Linked DNA regions of Homo sapiens. The protein of the gene in region 2 binds, or shares a complex with, the protein of the main gene of each other region. Each region holds a gene or a part of one and is shown on either strand. Other genes may lie near its edges. The genes, in order: ACAD9, COA1, TIMM21 and CMC1.

Region 1 (7,769 bases), on a different chromosome or scaffold from region 2:
CCAGGCTGGGCGAGGTGGCTCTCACCTGTAATCCGAGCACTATGGGAGGCCGAGTCGGGCAGATCACCTGAGGTCAGGAGTTCGAGATTGGCCTGGCCAACATGGTGAAGCCCCTTCTCTACTCAAAATACCAAAAATTAGCCAGATGTGGTGGCACGCACCTATAATCTCAGCTACTCGGGAGGCTGAGGCAGAATCGCTTGAACCTGGGAGATGGAGGTTGCAGTGAGTCGAGATGGCATCTCAAAAAAAAAGGAAATACAGGCCAGGCGCAGTGGTTCATACCTGTAATCCCAACACTTTAAGAGGCTGAGGTAGGAAGATCACCTGAGCCCAGGAGTCTGAGACCAGCCTGAATAACATAGTGAGAACCCATTTCTACAAAAAACTTTAAGAATTATTAGCTGGGCATGGTAGCGTGTGCCTGTAGTCTTAGCTATGCGGGAGGCTGAGGCAGAGGATGGCTTGAGCCCAGAAGTTCAAGGGTTGCAGTGAGCTATGATCACACCACTGCACTCCAGCCCAGGCAACAAAGAAAGACCCTGTCTCTTAAAAAAAGAAAAAGAGGAAAAAAGGAATGTTTATGGCAACTTTTTTGGTGATAGCTAAAATCTGGATACATACCCTATGTTGATGAATACTTGAATGGATAAACAAATCTTGGTATATCCATAGAAAGAAATATGACTCAGCATTAAAAAGGAAGCCACTACCAATACATGCACCATGGATGAAATTCAAAATTATGCAGAAAGAAGCCAGACAAAATCACACATAATATAATTCCAAAAAATACGAACTAATCTATAGTGAGAGAAAACAGATCAGCAGTTGCCTGGAAACAGGGGGGAAATAAAAGAGGCACAAGGAAACTTTGACGGGTAATGAGTACGTTCACTTCCTCTGTTGCACTGATGGCTCCTGAGGGGTACTCTCTAAATACAGTCATGCGTCAGGTGATTCTCTCCCTGTATGAACATCAGAATGGACTTACACAACCTAGGTGGCAGAGCCTACTACACACCTAGGCTATATGGTATGGCTTATTGCTCCTAGGCTGCAAACCTGTACAGTAGGCCGGGCGTGGTGTCTCATGCCTATAATCCCAGCACTTTGGAAGGCTGAGGCGGGAGGATCACTTGAGCCCAGGAGTTGGAAACCAGCCTGGGCAACACAGTGAAACCCCATCTCACTGTTAAATATTTTTTGTTTTTTTTTTTTTAAGGAAAACAAAACAAAACAAAAAAGCTGTACAGCATATTACTGTGCTGAACACTGTAGGCAACTGTAACACAATGGTAAGTATTTGTGTATATGAACACAGCTAAACATAGAAAAGATACAGTAGAAATATGGTATGATGATCTTATGGGATCACCACTGTATATATGGTCTGTCATTGACTTGAATGTCATTATGTGTCACATGACAGTGTGTGCAATTTATTGTAAATCAATTATTCCTTAATTAAACCTGAAAAAAAAAAAAACCTGACAAACCACATAGGAAAAGTTTAAATAAAAGAACAAGAGACTATGGGAGCTAAAAAAAGATACAAATAGGAAGATAAACACTAGGAAAAAAAGCAGAAATAAGTATTTCTAAATTATAAATTATGTTTATATATAAATAAGCAACTTTTAAAACTAGCAACATATAATTTGTGATCACCAGGTGTGAAATAAGAAACAAACAAAAACCAAGCAATGTAATGACAGCTGACAATTTGGCACTTCTCAAAGAGGTTCTGGGGGACCTGAGCTGCTTCTAGGGGGTCCCACAGGATCAAAACTAGTTTTTATTTTTTTTTGAGATGGAGTCTCACTCTGTCACCCAGGCTGAAGTGCAGTGGCGCCATCCCAGCTCAATACAACCTCCACCTCCCGGGTTCCAGTGATTCTCCTGCCTCGGCCTCCCCAGTAGCTGGGATTACAGGTGGGCACCAACACACCTGGTTAATTTTTATATTTTTAGTAGAGACAGGGTTTCACTATGTTGGCCAGGCTGGTCTCAAACTCCTGACCTCAAGTGATCCACCCACGTCGGCCTCCCAAAGCGCTGGGATTGCAGGCATGAGCCACCATACCTGGCCTAAAACTACTTAAGATGTTACTTGCTTTTAAATTCTAATTCTCTGAAGACTGTACAGTGGGGCGCAGTGTAGTGTATTTAACGTTTTGGCTCAGAGTCCAATATATAGTCCAAAGTACCATGTTCCCAGAATTTATGTACGGCCTTTATATGAATAAATCTTGATCAAGGATTCAGAAAAAAGTCTTAGGTTTGCATATAAGTCACTCAAAGCAGTAAAACAGGCTACTTGGATTTCCAGCAATATTTGTGCTTTTATTCTTGGCCATTACTTTTGGGGAAGGGTTGTCTGTCCTGGTTGGTTTTCATAGAGGCCAGTTGTGGGAGGATGTGATTTTTCTGTGTCTCCAGATGACAGTGCCTCTATTTCCGTGGCACTGCTGGCTGCCTACAGCTGTCATTCCAGAGGGCCCTTTGTCCACAGTGATTAGCCTCCTCTTTGAATGTACATGAAATAGGTGTATTTTTGTATGTTCTTTTCTCTGCTTTGCCCTTGGATTTAACTTCCTTTTTGAATTCACATCATGGCAGCTGAATGAACATAGTTTTTATTCCAGCATTTGCTATTTATTCCAAGAGACCTTTGTTCCTGTGAGAGGGAGTGGGTTTGGTTTGCAGTGGTTTCTTGCATATATATATATATATATATATATTTATTTATTTTTTTATTTTTATTTTTATTTTTTTTTGAGACAGGGTCTCACTCCTGTCGCCCAGGCTGGAGCTCAATGGCATGAACACAGCTGACTACAGCCTTGACTTCCCAGGCTTGGGTACCTTCTCCCACCTCAGACTCCCAAGTAGCTGGGACTATGGGCGCGCACCACCATGCCCGGCTAATATTTTAAATTTTTAGTAGAGACAGGGTTTCGCTCCATTGCCTAGGCTGGTCTCAAACTCTGGGACTCAAGCAATCTGCCCCCCTCAGTCTTCCACAGTGCTAAGATTACCAGTGTGAGCCACCGTGCCCAGCCGGTTTCTTATATATTTACATCTCTGCAAATACAAAGATGACAGTTATTGCTGACAGAGCCCTATGTCCTGGAAGTGTGTGTTTCTTGCTTTAAATGCACGTGTCAGGACAGGTGCGGTGGCTGACACCTGTAATCCCAGCACTTTGGATTACAGGCAGATCATTTGAGGTCAGGAGTTCAAGACCAGCCTGGCCAACATGGTGAAACCCCATCTCTACTGAAAATACAAAAATTAGCCAGGCGTGGCGGTGCGTGCTATAATTCCAGCTACTCAGGAAGCTGAGGCATGAGAATCACTTCAACTGCAGAGGTTGCAGTGAGCTGAGGTCGTACCACTGCACTCCAGCCTGGGTGACAAAGCAAGAGCAAGACTGTCTCAGAAACAAACAAACAAAAAGCATGTCTGAAGATTATAAAAAAAGACAGTTAAAAAAAAAAAAAGACTGCACAGTGGACTTTTCCAGAGGTTACGTGCACAAACAGGTATGAGAATCCAGCTGTCTTCTAATAAGCCAAACATTAAAAGGACTTGCATAACTTTCAACCAATGTCACTCTTTCCATCAATTTTTTTCTTTTTTTTTTTTTAACTTACTTTTCTTTTTTTTTTCTTTTTGAGACAGAGTTTCACTCTTATTGCCCATGCTGGAGTGCAGTGGCGCGATCTCGGCTCACCGCAACCTCCGCCTCCCAGGTTCCAGCGATTCTCCTGCCTCAGCCTCCTGAGTAGCTGGGATTACAGGCATGTACCACCACGCCCAGCTAATTTTGTATTTTTAGTAGAGATGAGGTTTCTCCATGTTGGTCAGGCTGGTATCGAACTCCCGACCTCAGGTGATCCACCCACCTCAGTCTCCGTAAGTGCTGGGATTACAGGTGTGAGCCACCGCGCCTGGCCTGATTATTTTTCAAAATATTTTTCATTAGCTGGCGCGGTGGCTCACGCCTGTAATCCCAGCACTTGGGGAGGCTGAGGAAGGCAGATCATGAGGTCAGGAGTTCAAGACCAACCTGGCCAACATAGTGAAACCCCATCTCTACTAAAAATACAAAAATTACCCGGGCGTGGTGGTGCATGCCTGCAGTCCCAGATACTTGGGAGGCTGAGGCAGGAGAATCACTTGAACCTGGGAGGTAGAGGTTGCAGTGAGTCGAGATTGCACCACTGCACTCCAGCCTGGGTGACAGAGTGAGACTCTGTCTCGGAAAAACAAAAACAAAATATTTTTCATTAAAAATATTATGTTAACATGTAATGGATTTATTATTTTTAAACAAATGAACACAGTATATTTTATTTTTTTTTTTTAGACAAAGTCACACTCTGTCACCCAGGCTGGAGTGCAGTGGTGCAATGTTGGCTCACTACAATCTCTGCCTCCTGGGTTCAAGCAATTCGCCTGCTTCAGCCTCCTGAATAGCCGGGATTACAGGCACCCGCCACCATGCCCGGCCAATTTTTGTATTTTTAGTAGAGACAGGGTTTCACCATGTTGGCTACGCTGGTCTTGAACTCCAGACCTCAGGTGATCTGTCCCCGTTGGCCTCCCAAAGTGCTGGGATTACAGGCGTGAGCCACTGCACCCAGCCCCACAGTATATTTTAAATTTCTCAGTTTTAATTTCTAAGAGGGGCTAGGCATGGTGGCTCACACCTGTAATCCCAGCCCTTTGGGAGGCCAAGGTGGGAGGATCACTTGAGCCTAGGAGTAGAGACCAGCCTGGGCAATATAGTGAGAACCTGTCTCTATGAAAAATACAAAAAAATTAGCTGGGCATGGGGGTGCGCACCTGTAGTTCCAGCAACTCAGGAGGCTGAAGTTGGGGGACTGTTTGAGCCTGAAAGATGGAGGTGGTGGTGAGATGAGATGGTACCACCACACTCCAGTCTGAGCAACAGAGCTAGGCCCTTTCTCAAAAAAATAAAGTAAAATAAAAATAAAATAACCCCTAAGATGGCAAATATTGATAGATAAAATTCATATAAACAAAAGCTCTCCAGGATCCTACTATTAGGGAAGACCTGCTGTCCATCCACCATCACTGAACTCTCCACCAAGGCCCTGGCTGGAGGACCGGCCAACAGCTCTGAGAGAGGGACCTGAGGTCAAATGCTGCCTCACCATGCAGGTGCCAAACTGTGGCTGGTCCACAAATCACTCTTTGTTTACAATTACCAAAGTACAGAAATTGAAACTCAACCTTTAGAAACACTAAGAGCAACTGTACACTGCCACAACAACCAACACATGCTCCATGGGCTTGTATGGTGTGTGGCCTTGGCTTTTTGCCATCTAATTTTTTTAGTTATTCATTTTTATTATAGCTTTATGGAAGTGTTGACCTGGAACAGTATGGAAATGTTTAAAGTGCTCCTGAACCACAAATACAATGAGAAGCATTTAACTGGATGTTTTTTAATTAAATGGCAATAGGGATGAAACCTAAAGCAAAATATTATGAGTGGAAACCATTTCTCCCTCAAGAAGACTTCTCCTATGTATGTCACTTCTAATATAAATATCAACCAAATAGCCCTTACAATGGAAATCGGCAATGGTAAAGAAAACCATACATACCCTCTTCAGTGAAGAATTTTTCCACGGGTCCCAAGAACTGATTGATTTCATTAAGTTCATCTTGGCTAACTTCTGGAAATGGGAAAACTTCTTTCTAAAAATAGTAAATATTTTCTAAAAAATTTAATTTTTAGCACACTCCCATCACGGAAATATCAGTTAAAAGGGAAGGAAAAACATGTGCTCCACTCCACCCTGGCCAGCGGGACATGACGTACTGAAGGAACTGGAAAGCAAACCTCACAAGGTTCCTGAGATACAGAAACTATGTGCAGGCTCCACCACCCACATCCATCTCCCTCCCCTGTTCAAATAGGTTCTTCCCGATTTTCATCAGTTTTCCTTCTCAGTACAAGGGATGATAATAGTCCCATGAAACAAGGAGCCCAAGACTAACATTTAGAAGCCTGGGGGTCTGGTCCTTGATTTCAGGCTTACTCATTATGTGGCCTTCACCAAATCCCTTCAGCTCTCTAAACTACCCCTTTCTCACCCATAACATGCAGGTAATATTTACTCAAGGCCCTTGTGAGAATCGTGGAAGATAGTGGATGTGGAAACTCCTTACTGAAATGGACAATTCTACATCAATTATTGTGTGAGCTCAAAGATGCTATGCTGACAAGAGCACATCATGCTTACCAAGTCTCATCGATCCCTACAGCCGCTGTCTCTCCTGCTCACAGACATCTGCTCCCTGTGCTGAGCCCCTCTGGACTTTTGGGCTCTGCTACCCCTTCAATTGCCAGCATGACATGAGCTTTGGATGTGGGCTTCAGGCTGTTGAGCAGTGATGTCCTGAGTCAGAGCTATAAGCCCAAGCATCACCTGTCCTCATGGCGCCTCTCACCAAGTGTTCTAGAGAAGTCTTGGGGAGACCTCAACCTTCTCCTCAGACCTTGTACAGCTAATCAGCCAACAGATTTCTCTACTCTATCAATATGCTCGCACTGCTTTCTCCTCTCTGGGCCCAGGACCACAGGCTTATAGGTGAGTCCCTAACTAAAAGTGACAGCCAACTTAAAGGAATCCCTGCCTCCATCCATTCCAAAACCACCCTGAAGGTGGTATAGAAAAAAAAAAAGGTTGGAGGCCAGGCACGGTGGCTCACGCCTGTAATCCCAGCACTTTGGGAGGCCGAGGCGGGCGGATCACGAGGTCAGGAGTTTGAGACCAGCCTGACCAACATGGTGAAACCCCGTTTCTACTAAAAATACAAAAATTACACGGGCTTGGTAGCACGCGCCTGTAATCCCAGCTACTCAGGAGGCTGAGGCAGGAGAATTGCTTGAACCCGGGAGGTGGAGGTTGCAGTGAGCCGAGATTGCGCCATTGCACTCCAGCCTAGGTGACAGAGTGAGACTCCATAAAAAAAAAAGAAAAGAAAAAGAAAAAAACAAGCTTAGCTGGTTGCAGTGGCTACTGCCTGTAATCCTAGTCCTTTGGGAAGCTGACGCAGGGGGATTGCTTAAAGCCCAGGAGTTCAAAACCAGCCTGGGCGTGGTTGCACACGCCTGTAGTTCCAGCTACTCAGGAGGCTGAGGTGGGAGGATCCCCTGAGCCTGGGGAGGTTGAGGCTGCAGTGAGCTGTGATTGCACCACTGCACTCCAGGGTGGGCAACAGAGTAAGACACTGTCTCAAGGAAAAAAAAAACAAGAAAAAAAAAAAAAAACAAGCTGATGGCTCCATCACTCTGCAGCCTTTTATATCAAAGCTCAGTCTCCTTCACTGAACACAGAGGCTCACTGACACTTGGGTCTTGTGCAATGGGCTGTGTTAGAGATCATTCTGGTACCAGTGGGCAGGCCAGATAAGACTGCCTGGCAACTAATTGGCCTTCAGGTACAACCACAGAAAACCTGCCACACAGGAGAGATTGCAGGGGCGTGGGAGAAAGATCCTGATGTTATCAAATCAGGTCAATGCCTTAGGGGAGGAGAGTTCAATTGCAATAAACAGTTTGTAAATTATCTAAAAAAGTGGAACCTGTTATTCAAAGAAATCTAGTGCAGAAACCAAATATGTAAAACAGACAGAAGCAGGCGGCTCTGACTGAGACTGCTGATAGGGAAAACAGGCACCCAAATCCCACCCACTCAACTTCCCACCCATCCCTGCAGCAGTTC
Region 2 (7,769 bases):
GCCTGTAATCCCAGCACTTTGGGAGGCTGAGGCAGGTGGATCACTTGAGGCCAGGAGTTCGAGATCAGCTGGGCAATATGGCAAAACCCCATCTCTACTAGAAATACAAACACTTAGCCGGGCATGGTGGCGCACACCTATAGTCCCAGCTACTCAGGAGAGTGAGGCAGGAGAATCGCTTGAACCTGGGAGGTGGAGGCTGCAGTGTGCCAAGATCACACCACTGTACTCCAGCCTGGGTAACAGAGCAAGGTTCCATCTCAAGAAAAAATTTTAAAAAAGAACAAATTTTCAGGGTCCCACTGTTTGAGTCAAGCTACAGCTTTTCTCTGGAAATTATAGAATTAAGCAACAGAGTATACACTGAGCATCTCTGGATGCTTTAAAAAAAAATTTAAAAAGGAAGGAGAAAGAAATGGGCAGAAGCAAGAAGGATTCTGAAGAAGAGCAAACTCTGAGGGGCCAATGTCTGAACTGTGGGCAGCTGTGCTTCCATGGGTAGATGTGACACTTTACAGGTTGGTTCCTTCACCAGCCAGACCTTGCCAAAGATTAAAGCAGGAGTTCTGGTAAAGCAAAGTGTTGGTCACTGGTGACTATCTCACACACATACTTGGGAAAAAATCCCAATGTATGACAATTACTTCATGAACAACTGAAACATCTCACCTCTGGAAAAACTGTAAAAATTGCAAATAAAGGAATTTGGGATAAGAGGGCATATGCTGTATACAGGCATCCTCACAAACCGCTGATTATAAAGAAAGGACCCTGACAGAATGTCAAAAATAGTCCACAAATTGGAAGGCGTGCACTGAGGCTCCAGGTGGCCATGATGCAGCAGACTCTGAACTCCTGTCACTGCAGAGTCACAGCATTTGGCCGCAGTAGAAGCCAGAACCTAGCACCACAACCAACATAGTCACAGCATGGCCAAGGCCCCAGGGATGTGGGGAAGCCCAGGAAGGCGCCCTCTCAGCACCACTGGGGCCAAAGTGAAAGCTGGACAGGACAAAGCTCCCACCAAAACCACCATGGCCTTACCCTACTCTCACTGGGGTTCCTGGAGCACCAGATCATGGATGCTGCATCAACCAGCCCCAGCAAAGGCGCCTTTGGCACACAATTCCTCAGTGCTACAGCTGGGCTCTGTGCTGAGAGAAACGCAACAGCCAGACCTACCCAGTGGCTTTTCCAAGTTCTCAGGATTGCTGGGGTCTAGCCAAGTGACCAAAGGCAAGGAAGCAACAGACAGGCTCCGCCACACCATGGGAGCAATCCGGTGGCCTGGCACAGAGTGAGCACTCCACACATGCCCAGCCCTTCCCTGTGCTCCTCCTCCAGGATGTCCTCTCTCACGCAGTGTCGCTGCCGTCCTTCCACTCACGTCCATGCTGGACACTGGACCATCACCTCTGACCCACCCGCTCCTGATACATGACTGTTACCAAGTTCTGTCACTTGGATGCCACGATGGCTTCACATCCGTCTTTTGCTTCTCCAGGCCACACCTCTGGTTCATGCTCTCACCACTGCACACCAGTGTGGCCACATCTCTCTCCTAAAGATGGCTCCCCGTAGCCAGTCCCTGGGCATTACCAATCTACACAAATCCACCTTCTTTTAAAACCGAATATTTTAATCAGAATACCAGAGCATGAATTGCTTTTGTAGTTAGAAAAAAGTCTCATTAGAGCTGGGTCCATTAAGAACATACTAAAAATAACAAAAAATAATGTAGGTCGGATCACCTCACTCATCCTCCAAATACTTTACGGGCTTCTGCTGCCAGAGTCAAGCACACACCTTCCAAGATGACACTGTGGCCCCTGGTGGCCGCAGCCCCTCCTACCTGCCCACACCCACCTCGCCCACCTGTGCCTCCACTGCCGTATCACACTGACAGGCGACACAGTGATGAACTTTCCCAGGCATGCTGCTCCTCAGCCGGGTGTTCCTCTCCACCTTTCAAAGTCCTCACAGCCATCTCCCAGGCCTCGAGCCACTTCCCCTAGGCCTGCACAATAGTGACAGGGTTTCCCTCACCCTGTCTTACTCAGGAATTTTCAACTGTAAACCCCCAAAAGCCTTCTGCACCTCTATTCCCCACATAGCTTAGAATCATTTCTCAAACCAGAGCATATACTCAAAATATGTTTGTTAAACAGAACAAATGTGTTTTACATGCAAGTGAGTGTGATCAAGTACAAAAAGATAAGTTATAGCTAAAAAAATGGGTTGGTATTCTGTGGAAGCAATGTAAATAAATACACTTTAAAAATCAAAGTTTAAAGAGTTGGGTACATTTGAATGAGCACTGACTGGATATAGATGCATTTCTCTTTTTTTTTTAATTTTACAGACAATTTCACTCTGTCACCCAGGATGGAGTGCAGTGACATGATCATAACTCATTGCAGCCTCCAACTCCTGGGTTCAAGCGATCCTCCTGCTTCAGCCTCCTGGGTAGCTGGGATTATAGGTGTGCACTATCACGCCTGGCTAAATTATAGATAGATAGATTAGATAGATAGATAGATAGATAGATAGATAGATAGATAGATAGATAGATAGGCAGGCAGGCAGGCAGGCAGGCAGGCAGGCAGAGAGACAGAGAGAGAGAGAGAGAGAGAGAGAGAGAGAGAGACAGGGTCTTGCTGTGTTGCCCAGGCTGGTTTCAAACCCCAGGGCTCAAGCAATCCTCTTACCTCAGCCTCCCAAAGTGCTGAGAGCTATCAAAGCCAACATGGTAGCAAACCACCACTGGTCATTTCTCTACTACCTTCAATTCAAGATGGCGACATCAGCATACCCACTGCATTCCCTGCCACATCAATTCCCCAGAATGGAAGAAAAGTATACAGAAATATCTATAATATAAAATATATTTTATATAAACATTAAAATCCATAATAGAAAAACTTTTTTTAAAGGTGCCAAACCTAGCTTTACTTAGTGGATTTTCCCATCCCAAATCCTTAACTCCAGGACTTTCCAGGAGACAGTAGACTCTCCTCTCCTTCAGCAGGCACCAGCCTGCGGTTCGCAGGGAAAGCACATTACCTTGGCATCAACAATGTCCACGAAGTTTTCCCTGTCGATGAGCTTGAGATAATGGATGTTGAGAGGAGGGCCCAGAGCTTCCTGTGCCTCGGGATGGCTCTGCAGCTGCTCCACTGCCAACTTGTAATATAAAGCCCTGGAATGAAACTCTAAGGACGAAAGACACACTTATTTTCTTTATTGAACTTGGTCAGGTAGAATCTACTACACAGAAAATTAAATAATCCAACTGACGTACAGGGTAGAAACAGAAACGTGAAATCTGTGGATGGACGAATAATTAAGGCCATCTACTCTAAATTGTCCATTTTACAGACTCAAAAACCAAAGCACAGGCAGGCAGTGTTTTGCAGGGATGTGCAGATGACCTTGGGCCTTGACCTCATGCAGACCCTTTCTGCTTCACCTCATTTCTACCCTCACTCATTGCCTTATTTTGACACCTAAGAGGTTTGGTCAGCTCTTCTCTAAGTTTCCTCTCAAGTCTCTAAGTTTGCTCTAAAGTCCTACTATGATTCCATGACTTGTTCAAAGTGACACAGCTGGTCCATGGCAAAGCCGAGGCCAGAATCCATGATACCTGACTTCTCAACACTGCCTGTTCCACTAAGTTGAGACATAAAATAGAAAGACCACAACATTAACAACAAAACCCTCAGGCCTAGAAACAGGATATGAAAATGTTCATTCATCAAGATTTAAGCCAACATTTCAACTCAAACTGCTCTCAGTCTCAGGAATCCTTCTGAGCCCACAGGCTACCTGGGAACTCCGGGAAGCACCTCCCTGAAGCTGTAAGTTCTAATAATCAGCTGCCCAAAGGAGGGAGCAGAGGCAGGCTTCCCAAGCAGGGTGTTCAGTTTGGCCGCAGAAAGTGCTTCTCTTCTGAAGGTCCCATCACACTAATGAAGGGAAAGGTGACCTGACCCTGGAGAGGCCAAGGGAATCCCCCTCCTGGGCTGCTTCCCAGGAATAGGGATACAGGGAATACCACAGGCATGAACACGGTGCCAGCTATGATAGGAAAAGAAGGGACAGAAGCAGGGTCCAGACAGCTAATCTTTATTGAGTGATTTCTATGGCTAGGCACTGTTCTCAATATTCCACACATCTCACAATGTTCAACAGCTCTTGTGTTGTGAGATTCAATTCTCACCTCATACACAAGCACTAACATTACCACACATCACACCAATAAGGTAACTAATGCCCAGAAAGGTGACGGACTCCCCCATAAGGCCACATAGCTGGTCAAGAGCTGGAGCCGAGATTCAACCATTCAACCCAGGCAGTCGGCTGCAGTGCCCAGGTCTCACCGACTTAGCAGCCTCCTAAGGGAGAAAGGCTGTCACACCAGAAAGCTGAACCCTGACCCAAAAGTGCACCCATCCCTCTCATGTCCTGCCCCTGTCCCTTTGGCAGAGGGAAGAGGAGGCCAAATTATTCAGTCTGAATCATTCCTGGGAACGCTCATCTCAGGCCCCCTCCAGACTCTGCAACTCCACCAACTCTGCAGGATGGTGCAGAAAGGCTGGAGAGGACACTGGAGCCTGTCTGCTTGTCTGCTGGTGACACTCACATCCTGGGAAGAAGTGAAAATGTTGCAGAGTGGATGACGAGCCAAGCTGGGTGGGGATAAAGGAGCCTAAAAAAAGCCAGTCTAGAAAAAACTGCTGCCGCTTTGCCACCAGTAGCATTAAAATGACCTTAAATGTCCTGGCTGCTGACAGTAATTGTGGCCTGTCTTTACAAATTCAAATTTGAGTGCAGTGGGGCTGGAAGCGGCATCTGTCGGGATTTTGCCATCGTGGTCTCTGCTTTTATTTTCTGCCCCTGCCAGAGTTCCTTGCTCATGGTCCCTCCTCCATTAAATCAACAGCAGAGAATGAAAGTGCAAAAAAAGTCTGACAATGCTGGACGCACAGCCACAGCTTTCCCCACCTGTGAACCATCTGGTATTCCCCTTCCCTCTGTCCCTTCTTTATATAATCTCAGAATCTTGATGGAGCCCCTGTGTGTGCACTGGACTGAAAGCCCATCGTGCTTTGCTGGGCTTCTTATGCATATTAGTCCTGGTCCTTTTATTTGTACTCGTTGCTCCTGGAAAAACTGAGATTACAGGATACAGAGGAAGCTATAGCCAACGAAATGGTGGACTAGCCTTTAAAATCACCCTCTCCTCCTTTCTCTAATCTAAACAAAGCATCTCAAGTATTTCCTCTGATGGAGGAGCAGGAGCAGGCTAGGAGGAGGTCAGGCCGCAGGCGGCTAGCAGGATACTTACTTTGAATGAGGTAATACACAATGGCAAAGCCCCCGGCATAGAACACACCGTGGAAAAGGATCCTTGCTCCCAGAGGCATTGACCGCCTGCTTCCTGCATACTTAAAAACAAAAGATACAAATTTATTGTAGGATTCCCAGTTTTGTGCCAAGGGGATTTGCCCGGCTTGGACCCCTAAAGGAAAGAAGCATTAAGGAAGCCAGAAAGGAGGCCAGACCGCCCTCCCTCATTTGCTTCCTTTCCAAATGCCAGGGTTGGTTCTGAAGCCAAACTGAGTGCCCTCCTGAGGGTGCCCTCTCGAGAGTGGCCCATGTCCAGGACCCATGCTGTGGGGGCCCTGCCACCCCCAGCCAGCCCAGCACAGAGCGAGCATTCAGCCCACCATCCTGACAGACACAGCCCAGACTGTGTGCCAAGCCCCGCATGGCCAGGAAGCACAACCACTTTGTCTCAGGCCAACTGGTAAACAGGAAGCTTATCCTTTGTGGCAATGGCTGGTCCTGTAAGCCTGCGAATGGGCTGGAGCTGTCACTGGCTCCTTTCATATTTTGAAAAATGCACCACCCTTGGGATGAGGAAACTCTGGTTATGACTCAGGCTGAATGAACAGATGGAGGGATGCCAGCTCGGTAAATACAGCATACCATCCATCCACTCTTATAATATGTAAGAGTATCAAAATGAGTGTAAAGTTAATTACAGTAATGTGATCTGGGAAAAGTCATTTAGTTCTCATAATGAAAACGGTCAGAGCATCTCTGAAGAATGTATTAGTCAGATCTTGCTTAATTTGAAGAGAGCTCAACAGGGTGAGGCAGCCAGACTGGGTTATGGAGAGGTTCCCAGAGTGTTACAGCTTCCAACGCCAGCATGAGACACGAGAGAAAGACAGAGTGGGAAACAATGCAGAAAATGCCCATCCCTCCTGTGAAGTTAAAGCACAAGTGAACCCTAAAGACCAGGAGAAGCCCATAACTATTCAGGGAGTGACTTTCTTCTATTGTCTAACTCGAGAATACCCTGGCAGGTTCTAGTGGGGAACTTGGCCCTGGAACATTCCATTACCTTTTGCCACATCATAGCACAACTCTCTTGAAAATCATCAAAGGCAAGTTGTCCTGCAATTAGAAAAGATTTTACATTAAAATCATATTTTTAAAGCCCAGTTCTCTCTAGTCTCATACAGCCAAGATTTATTACCAACCCAAGCTTTAGAACACGAACAAGAAGTTAAAATTAAACTCTAAAACAAGCCTTGTCTGTGAAAGGCCCTGGTTTTTCCCCCTTCTGCTGCCAAATTAGGAAGAAAAAACAAAGCCTGCGGGTTTCCTGTCTGTGTCCTATGTAGTTTTTGTTACAGCAACCAAAGAACCGGTGTGCACAAGGGAGAACCGCAGACAGCAAGTGCTTTGACCACAGCACAAACACAGGGCCAATCAACAGGAGGCTGGACCTGCAGAAGCAAGATGCTAGCAATAAAAGCTGTACGTGACAGAGTGAAAACAGCACTTCAGAGTTAAAAAGAAACAATAGTACAGTAAACTTATACATGGACTTTAACAATATTGATAATACCTAATACTTCTGTCTCTGACTATTATGTGTCTTGTACTATTCTAAGCACTTTATATAATTCATTTAATTCTCACAACCCTTTGAAGTAGGAACTATTATCATCACGCTCATTTTGCAGATGAGTAAACTGAGGCACAGAAAGGTTAAGTAACATGCCCAAAGGTGCACTAATAAGTGAATAAGTGGTAGAACTGGGATTCAAATTCATGCAGTCTGGCTCCAGCATCTGCTCTTTCAACCACTGTGGTACACGAGCTTTAAGATATCTAATTAAAGCAATATTGAAATGTGAAAACAAACAGTGTCTCTGAGCTAAAATATATTCTTACTGTTCAGTGTAAAAGTCCTTGGCAGGCATGCCTTTCCTGCTATTTTTCCAGACAAGGTGGATACATATTTGTACCTTCATTCCTTCTTTTGTTTAGCAAACGGTTACTGAGGGTCTGATCTGGTCAGACAGTAAGAATATAAAAACAGTATCAAGATATAAGGAATTTTCCTTGGTCCTGAGGGGAATACAGACAATTAAACAAATAATTATAACATAGATCTATCACATGCAACTGCACGGCTATGCACTGCACAACCCTTGTAGGGCACCATGCACATTAGAGAAATCAAAGATTTGTATCTTTATTAAGACAGTTTGCCAACAGTTGGAAGTACTATAAAGTATCTTGAAGAAGGGATGGGGATGGTTGTCTTTTTCTAATTTGCACAAAGGTGCCTTTGGGCTAGCAGCAGCCTGGTTAGTGCAACCAGACATATGCACCAAGAGAGGAAGTAACACTCAGGAAGTGGTCAACCTTGCTGCAGGGCATCAGCGGAGGTTTCACAGAGGAAGTTT
Region 3 (3,278 bases), on a different chromosome or scaffold from region 2:
GGCTCCAGCTGCTTCCTCTCTGCAGGCCACTCCTAATCTCGTCCAGTTCAGACAGCATCCTGAGCGCCAGACTTGAGAAACCTGTTGCTTCTAGGCCTTCACCTGGCTGACTGATGTACCTTGAGCTCAATGTAGAACTGACTGTTTTCTGCTCATGACCCATCCTGTCCTGGATTTTAACAGTCGATCAGAGGCCTGAGTTATTCTCGACTGCTCCCGCTGTGTGACTCCGGATTTTAACACAGTCAGAGGCCTGAGTTATTCTCGACTCCTCCCCGTGTGACTCCGGATTTTAACGGTCAGAGCCCTGAGTTATTCTCGACTCCTCCCCGTGTGACTCCGGATTTTAACGGTCAGAGGCCTGAGTTATTCTCGACTCCTCACCGTGACTTCCCACATGCACTTGGTCACAAAGTCCTGTCCTTCCCCCAGCCTCACACATTTCTCAAATGTACTACCTCCTCTCTAGCTTTATCCTCTCTCATCTCAACTATTACGGTAACCTCTACCTGGCTTCTGCCAAATGCAAGCCATCCTGCACACAACTACCACTTCTAAATACAGATACAGCAGCTTAATTCCCACTCAGATTCCTGTGATGCTCTTCAGGGCCTACAGGATCAAAACCTTAACACTGTCACACGATATACCTGGCCCCTGCACTCCACACCCCGCCCGCAAGCTTTTCCGTGGCACTAGACGACTCTAGTCTGACATATAGCATACCCTTAATCAATATGTTGCATGAAATCTAACAGATGGAACACATGAGTGGTACTATATAAAATAAATAGTAAGTGTAACCCTGAGTAGAAATCTATGAATTAGGAATTGGGGAACTGTCTCTGGATGAGAATAAGAGAAACAGAAGTAATATTGTAATGGCTTACCAAATGGAAATAAATGGATAAAGTATTACTAGCATTGATCAACAATAGTTATGAAGGGAGCTTGCAGGGTAGTTAGGCTGGAAATCTCACGGGGCTAAAAGCAGAACTTCTGATAAACTCTTGCCTTGCATATAATTTCTTCATTAAGGAGGAAGAGCAAACAGTGACAGGAGAGTCTGCTCTAGAGTTAGTTGTGAAAAGAGTTCACTGATCAGGTGTGGAGGAATGACAGAGGCCTTGGAGGAAAATGACCAGAGCATTTGCAAATTCACAAATATGACGGAAGGGGATACCAGGCAGAGTCAGATAAGTGCCCTAGAATTCAGAGAAAAAGTGGGAGTAAGCCCATGGACAGAGACACCACAATCAAAGTGGATTAAAGAGGGTCTTAAAACACAGAAATTTTAACATTTAGTAGGGTACATCAGAGGGAATGAAAACAGAGATCTAGAGAGTTACACATCACATTTTCCTGTGGCTATACAGAAGAATCTCTTATTGGTACAGAGTTTTTCCTTTTGAAAAAGTAATTTAGTTTTATTTCTAATTATAAAAGCTCAGATCTGTTTTTTGTTTTTTTTTTTTGAGACGAAGTCACACTCCGTCACTCATGCTGGAGTGCAGTGACATGATCTTGGCTCACTGCAACCTCTGCCTCCTGGGTTCAAGCGCTTCTCCTGTCTCCTGAGTAGATGAGATTACAGGAGTGTGTCAACGTGCCTGGTTAATTTTTTTTTTTTTGAATTTTTAGTAGATAGGGTTTCACCATGTTGGCCAGGCTGGTCTTGAACTCCTGACCTCCAGTGATTGACCTGCCTCAGCCTCCCAAAGTGCTGGGATTATAGGCATGAGCCACCTCGCCTGGCCAAAAGCTCAGATCTTAAAGGGGCATGAGCATATTGTAAAATGGCAGGTGCATAAAAATGAATACAGAAAAAGCAAACAGTCTTAAGTCAAATGACAGGGCCATGGAGGGTGGCTAAATCCCCACCTGAGCTCAGATGCCGGGCTTCTTCAGCAAGCTACAGTTTGAGCAGGTTGTTTGAAGAGCAGGGCTGCTTTTTTGAGTTTAGGATAGCAAGTGGAACTTCTCAGCCTGTTAAATGTTGACATTTCAGTGAATCCTGAAACTGAACATTCTATAGCAAAGGAAAAAACGATTAGGAGAGAAAGCCTAAGTTAAGGCCTCATTCAGTCAAAGTGTGTTACGTCAGGGAGACGAGTGTCTGTTATATTTTCTATACTCCTTAAATGTTGGAAATTTTTATAATTAAAAACATCTAAAACAAGCAGTCAAACCAAGAAACTAACTAAATTAAGCAGGGAGATAAAGTAAAAAGGGGAGATAGATTGCCTGGAGGTCTCTCTATCCTGAATATCCCAAAATTTCAAGAACACATCAGAAATTCCTCTACAGACAGTTCTCGGGGAGAAGGAACAAACACATCAGAGGGGATACCTCACACTGAAGCCACCGCAGATAAACATGGTTCTAGACCCCTCCCAATGCACATAGCACTTACATAGATATGGAATCAGGATCTTGTAAGTGAAGGTCACTTTTTTCCAAATCCCCAGCAAATATTTCAAATAAAATAGAATTTCCTTTTTTTTTTTTTTTTTCTTTAAGGGGCCTCACACACGTATTTGAATGTCTCTCATTCACTCCCATGTTCTTTTGGCAGTCAGAAGTATCAGTGCAAGTAAGTTCTAAAGGGGATGAGGGCACTTCATGGCTGCCTTCTATGGTCCAGGCTTGTACCTCTCATCACACTGCCATCCTAACAACCCACACAACAGGGACACTTGACCACGCACCTGCTAGAAAAGGTGGGGTGGGTGCCCAGGTCTACCCAACTTGGGAGTGTGTACTTTTCCCGCTATGTACTAGGCCCTTAATTCATGAAGCGCGAAATATGAGACAGATTCCTAAAACTCACACAATTTTGAAGAATGTATTTACCATCTGGTTCCCTATGGCCCTCAACCATTTTCACATGCTTATCTCAAGTCAGATTCCAAAGTATGCGGAGGGCAGCTGCTAATGACATATTTGTTAGTTTTAATTTTATTCTGCAGACATTATGCAGTTCTATAATATAAAATGAATACAATACTAAAATCTATTTCCTTTATTTACATGGTGTAACATTTCCAATAACAAACATTTCTAATCATGAAAGATGGTGTTAAAGCAGAAATATTGTCATGATTGAGTCAATGGGAGAACATAAAATATGCTGTATTTCATAATTTTTCCGTAAGAAAATGTCTAGTTTGTTTAAATGCAACAAATACTGTATTAGATTCACTTTATAAGCCATACACTCCTTCTTGTCTTTCTTTTGAACACATTCTGGAAGGCAGCTGTGAAGAACGGAGTAGCGA
Region 4 (4,793 bases), on a different chromosome or scaffold from region 2:
TCCACAGCCATTGTAACTAGTTTCAAGATAAGTAAATTTTACGTATATTTTCACAGTCCTCATTAAAATCACAAATAGAAATTACTACCCACTAAGACAAGGTTTAACTTTCCCTAATCCCATGCAATAGATCTGAGAGATTTTTTTTTAAGAAAGAATTTAAATAGGACACTAAAGAATCAATTCAAGTTCCACACTTTACTCTTGAGTGAACCACTCAAAAAACTATTTTACTTTTATTTGAAATACAAAGAAACCACATTTTCCCAGGCCACAGATCAAAAGGAGGGAGATTACTAGAGCAGACAAAAGCAAAGCAAATATAGAAATCTAGAGACCACACAGCATAGGGGCAAACATGCCCATATTTCCACATTGACCTTTGGTATTGGTGCATTTCCTAGAGCACAGGAAGTTAACTGTTTTTAGAGATAAATGAAAATGGAAGAGTTACTTTAAGAAGCTAGTGAAATATACAATCTATTTTATAGCTTTGATTAAAATCAGAAGTAGCCCACTTCATGTAGAAAATTCACTTATGTACATGTTGCTTTCCCCATAGAAGCCAGATTAGATTACACAGTATAAATAATATGTTCATCCTCCTTATGTCAAAGACTAAACCATTCATTGTAGCCTTCAGAATACCCATGTGTATCCATACTGAAGATTTTTTTCACCTGGTACATCTGTCTCAGTTGTGTCTTGCTTGCTTATGGGTGCCTCTGTTGATATTATTCCCTGTTAATATGTGGTAACCCACAGGTTTTTTACCCCTTAAGATACACCTTCTCCAAGTAGCCTTTCTGAATTAAGATCAGTACTTTGTTGTCACATGATTCAGCTCTTCAAGTCTGAATTTTCCCATTTATTTTGGTTTTCTAATGTTTCACATAGGCATGTTCCTGCTTTTAAGAATTCAGTTCCATTTTGGCAGCAACTCAGTAAGTCTTACAGATGTAAATTTTACTTTAGCTAATAAGGGAGCAAGAGGAAGGAATAGGTGGCTTTTTGTTATGTTTTCTTCATTCTGTCGATTTATGGATGTACTGAATTGAACCTTATAAAAAGAAATCTAAAGATTCCAAAGGAAGCTCTTTAGAGCAAGTTTCAGCTAGTATGAAAGAAGTCAACATAAAATATTCAATTTTAAATAGATTCATAAGCTACAGATGGGCCACTGTTTTTTGGTTGTTTGAATTTTACCTAGAACAGAGATATCAAGTGTAGATTTAAAAGCTTCTAGCTGGGTAAAAAATTTTTGGCTAATCTTTCCTTACTAAAGAACCTTATACATCATTTGTCTAACACTTTAAACTGTCACAGTCACTGACTTTTTAGTATACCTGTTTGATAGCTATCATCACTGTACTGTTTAAATGGAAAATAATTTTCTCCACTCAAAAGCTGGTTTAACAAATGTCTATTGTATGAATCATATTAACAACCAACAATTAGTACTAGATTTTGAGATCTATAGGCAAGGACAATATTTCACATCCACTTCAATTTCAAACAAAAATATTTATTTTAATTAAACAATTTCTTGGTATTGTTCAAAACATTAATCAAGCAATTATCTCATAAGACTTTTTTTCTTTACAAAGGAAAATTTCCAATTTTGGTTTTAAAAAAGGCAAACCAGTAAGCTACATTAGAGATCAGATATAATATACAGCCTATGCAGCCACATGAGAAATAGTTTTTGCTGCTTTGTTATTACACAGGTAGTTGCTTCCTTCAGCTAAAGCCTGGAGTATTGTATTTCTTTTATGCATATTGGGTTTGGTTCTATTACTTGGCAGGAGATTGTACTCCCCTGAGTCAGCTGTGTTCATTGGTCAGAATAAATTCCAGCATCTGACACCAATTCCATTAATCACAGACAAGCTTGAATAAGTGTAAGATAATAGAAAAAAATATCTAGTGAATGGCGAACATTGTCTATGTATGTATGCTATTCAGTAATACAGTAGAAGAGATCTGAGATATTGAGTTCAAGATATATGAAACTGTCTATCAAAAAGGATAAAAGTCCTCCTACATGAAATACTTTAATTCAGGCAAAAGGTGTATGAACCAAGTAAATCTCCACCCTGAAAGAACTTAAATTTCCATGTGAAGCCATCTTTATTTCCTTCTTTATTTCCAAATAATTGGCCACTTAGAATAAGTGTGGACATTTCATGATCGACAATATCAATACAGCCCAAACCCTGATTTCTATGATTAAAAATAATAATTTTAAATCACTTTCTCAATAAATAGAATATTACATTTCAACACAAAGTCTAACAATTTAGAAGCTGCTCTACACAATGTGCAGCTAGCTGTAGTCTCTTTGAAGAAAATGACTTTTTATCATTACACACATTTATGTTTATATTATGGCCCACAGAAGGGCAGATTAGACTGAAATCTGTGTGATGCTCCTTCTACTACTTATTGAATAGTGTGTAGGGTTACAATCATTTGTTTACACCCCAGAGTTTTTCAACTATTTCATTTTTTTTTTTTTTTTTCCCAATTAGGACTTAAGGAATGTGCTGGGACAAAGTTGGCTTCAGTGATCAGGTTGTTTCAAGTCTTAGAATTCAAACTTCAATTCTAAAAAAATTTTATCAACAAAACACTGTGACCAAAAAATCACTTTAAATCTTAAATATTGAAACGCAATAGCATATAAAGATGGTATAACCTAAGATGCTTTTATTTCATTATATTTTCAATATCTTTACGCATTATAACAACAGAAATGTAACCTACTCACATTGCCATTTGTTCCATTATGCAATTTGAAGAAACATGTTTTCCTTTTATTTTTATGAACAGATATTTAGACATTTCACATTTTGTAAAACCACGTCTACAATCTCCAATTCCATTCTTCTGAGAGGCAAAATTTTACAATTAATATAGAAGGCAGAGTTTTTTAAACACCTTAAGTTTACTTATTAATTAGTATAGTAGCATATTTCAGATTCTTAGAATATGGAGCTAGAGGGTGCTCTTTCATACTAGAAAACCAACTATGTTGGTTTTTGTACTATTGTACAGTGTGTTCAAATATAGATACTGAAGACCTCTGCAAAATTTTAATCAAAATCTCCTTTCAGTTTGTTAAATAATTTCTTGGGAGGACCACTGAAAGAGATAAGTGTCCTCATGGTGAAATCGTGAATCTCTTCCAAATTAATTCTTATAAAGGCAGTTCTGATTATGTTGATCCAAGTAATGCAGTGGTGGAAGGTTGGGTAAAGGCAAAGTTTTAGTTTTAGTTTCCCCAAATGCTGTCTCACTTGATTTAGGAGGACTTGGAAATACCCAGGAATTGTCTTCCAGAGAATTTCTGCCATAAGAACTGTGTTCCTGAAAGCATGTACCATCATTAGGAATGGATCTCTCATTGTCTGTCCATGATTGGAGGATTGCTTTCTCTGATAAAACCTTTACATCTCCTGGTAAAGGGGAAGATGTGGTATGACAAAGAGCTTTGCCATTTGGTAAGAGAGGGGGATGTCTTGTGTATGTTGCAGTAAAATTCATCAAGTGCAGTTTTGTGCTGTCTCTTCCAAGGTCTTCACTGCATCCTACAGGGGCACAGGCTAAAAAGAAAACACAGACTAAATGTCAGTTTTCATTACATTTGTGATCATAAAATTCGATAACACTTCACCAATTTGAATTCTAGAACTGGTGATGAAATTAAGATTTCCAAGTTAGTGTGATCATTGAGGCACTGTGACTAGGAGATAAATGACAGATGATCTGAGTTTTAATCCTGGATCAGCAATTTACTGTGACTTTAGATATTTGTCTCTTAGCTGCTCCTGATGTCTCTTTCCTTGTCTGCAGAATGGATATAGAATTCCTGTCCCAACTATGTCATAGAGCTTTTAAAAGATGAAGAACTACATATTTTTAAAAGTTGGAAACTAATACAGTTAAAATACAAATAAAGATCCTGTTCTTGGCTCTTATTGTGGCTGGAGAAGGATTGCAGACTGTTCACATGTCAGTGGGGACTGAGACAGTTCTTAAGTTTTAGCATTTTTTAGTTAAATATAATATTCCTTTGCTCAAACTCTTTGTCCACAGGCAGTCCAAAAGCAAATTTTTTAGAAATAATTGCATTTTTAATTGGTGAGACCCAAATGAAGTTTTTATATATCAAAGGCTTTTATGGATAAAGCAGTTTAAATAAAATTTGTGAAATCTTGTTTCTTGTAAAACACAGCAAATGTTAATGCTACTGTGGTCACAATGTAGGTAAAGTAAAAAAAAAAAAAAAAACAGCCAAAAAAAAAAAGTTTTGTACAAATGCAATGGCCTAGAAAAAGACTACTTAAAAGCTATTATTTCACCACAGCCAGCACATTGGTAATACAGGTTTCTCCACTCCCTCCAGCTCAGCCTACCAGTGTGGAAAGGTAAGTTTATCCTTAGCTCAAGAAGGATGGCCAAGTGTAACTAAGGCTTGACTTCATGTAATTTTAGAAGAAACAGATTGAACGACATTATAAAATAAGTTCATTGTTTTTCCTGGGAGGGTGGATATGGATGGAGGAGAACTGGAAGTGTAGTGTTTGGCTTTGGAAAAAAGGTGATACAAAGGTCAGGAGAAAGGTGGTTCTAGTCTCATCTCTGTACTCCTCAAAGCAATGAGTTCTGTGTAAGGAGTGGTGACCTTGAGCCTACCACTGTCATAGGAAAAGTGCTAGAAAACTTATGTTCCAAAGCACCGAAAAATATTAATCAGCTAGGAAGGAACACAAGGATGAGCCATGTCCAAG

Evidence for each region.
Region 1: COA1 (region 2) and ACAD9 share a complex: the UniProt entries of both Homo sapiens proteins name them as parts of the mitochondrial complex.
Region 3: COA1 (region 2) and TIMM21 share a complex: the UniProt entries of both Homo sapiens proteins name them as parts of the MITRAC (mitochondrial translation regulation assembly intermediate of cytochrome c oxidase complex) complex.
Region 4: COA1 (region 2) and CMC1 share a complex: the UniProt entries of both Homo sapiens proteins name them as parts of the MITRAC (mitochondrial translation regulation assembly intermediate of cytochrome c oxidase complex) complex.

The regions. Positions count from the first base shown.
Region 1 is NC_000003.12:128,882,620-128,890,388, reverse strand, and holds part of ACAD9 (complex I assembly factor ACAD9, mitochondrial), read right to left. Parts: intron 5,737-7,769; coding exon 5,643-5,736; intron 1-5,642. UniProt on the Homo sapiens protein: As part of the MCIA complex, primarily participates in the assembly of the mitochondrial complex I and therefore plays a role in oxidative phosphorylation.
Region 2 is NC_000007.14:43,642,188-43,649,956, forward strand, and holds part of COA1 (cytochrome c oxidase assembly factor 1 homolog), read right to left. Parts: exon of another isoform or gene 7,252-7,769; intron 6,466-7,251; 5' UTR 6,428-6,465; coding exon 6,413-6,427; intron 5,448-6,412; coding exon 5,348-5,447; coding exon of another isoform or gene 5,271-5,347; exon of another isoform or gene 4,285-5,270; intron 3,213-4,284; coding exon 3,064-3,212; exon of another isoform or gene 3,059-3,063; intron 1-3,058. UniProt on the Homo sapiens protein: Component of the MITRAC (mitochondrial translation regulation assembly intermediate of cytochrome c oxidase complex) complex, that regulates cytochrome c oxidase assembly.
Region 3 is NC_000018.10:74,158,516-74,161,793, reverse strand, and holds the end of TIMM21 (mitochondrial import inner membrane translocase subunit Tim21 precursor), read right to left. Parts: 3' UTR 1,263-3,278; downstream 1-1,262. UniProt on the Homo sapiens protein: Participates in the translocation of transit peptide-containing proteins across the mitochondrial inner membrane.
Region 4 is NC_000003.12:28,320,850-28,325,642, forward strand, and holds the end of CMC1 (COX assembly mitochondrial protein homolog), read left to right. Parts: 3' UTR 1-3,192; coding exon of another isoform or gene 3,193-3,605; 3' UTR 3,606-4,293; downstream 4,294-4,793. Other genes in the region: AZI2 (5-azacytidine-induced protein 2), read right to left, coding at 3,193-3,605. UniProt on the Homo sapiens protein: Component of the MITRAC (mitochondrial translation regulation assembly intermediate of cytochrome c oxidase complex) complex, that regulates cytochrome c oxidase assembly.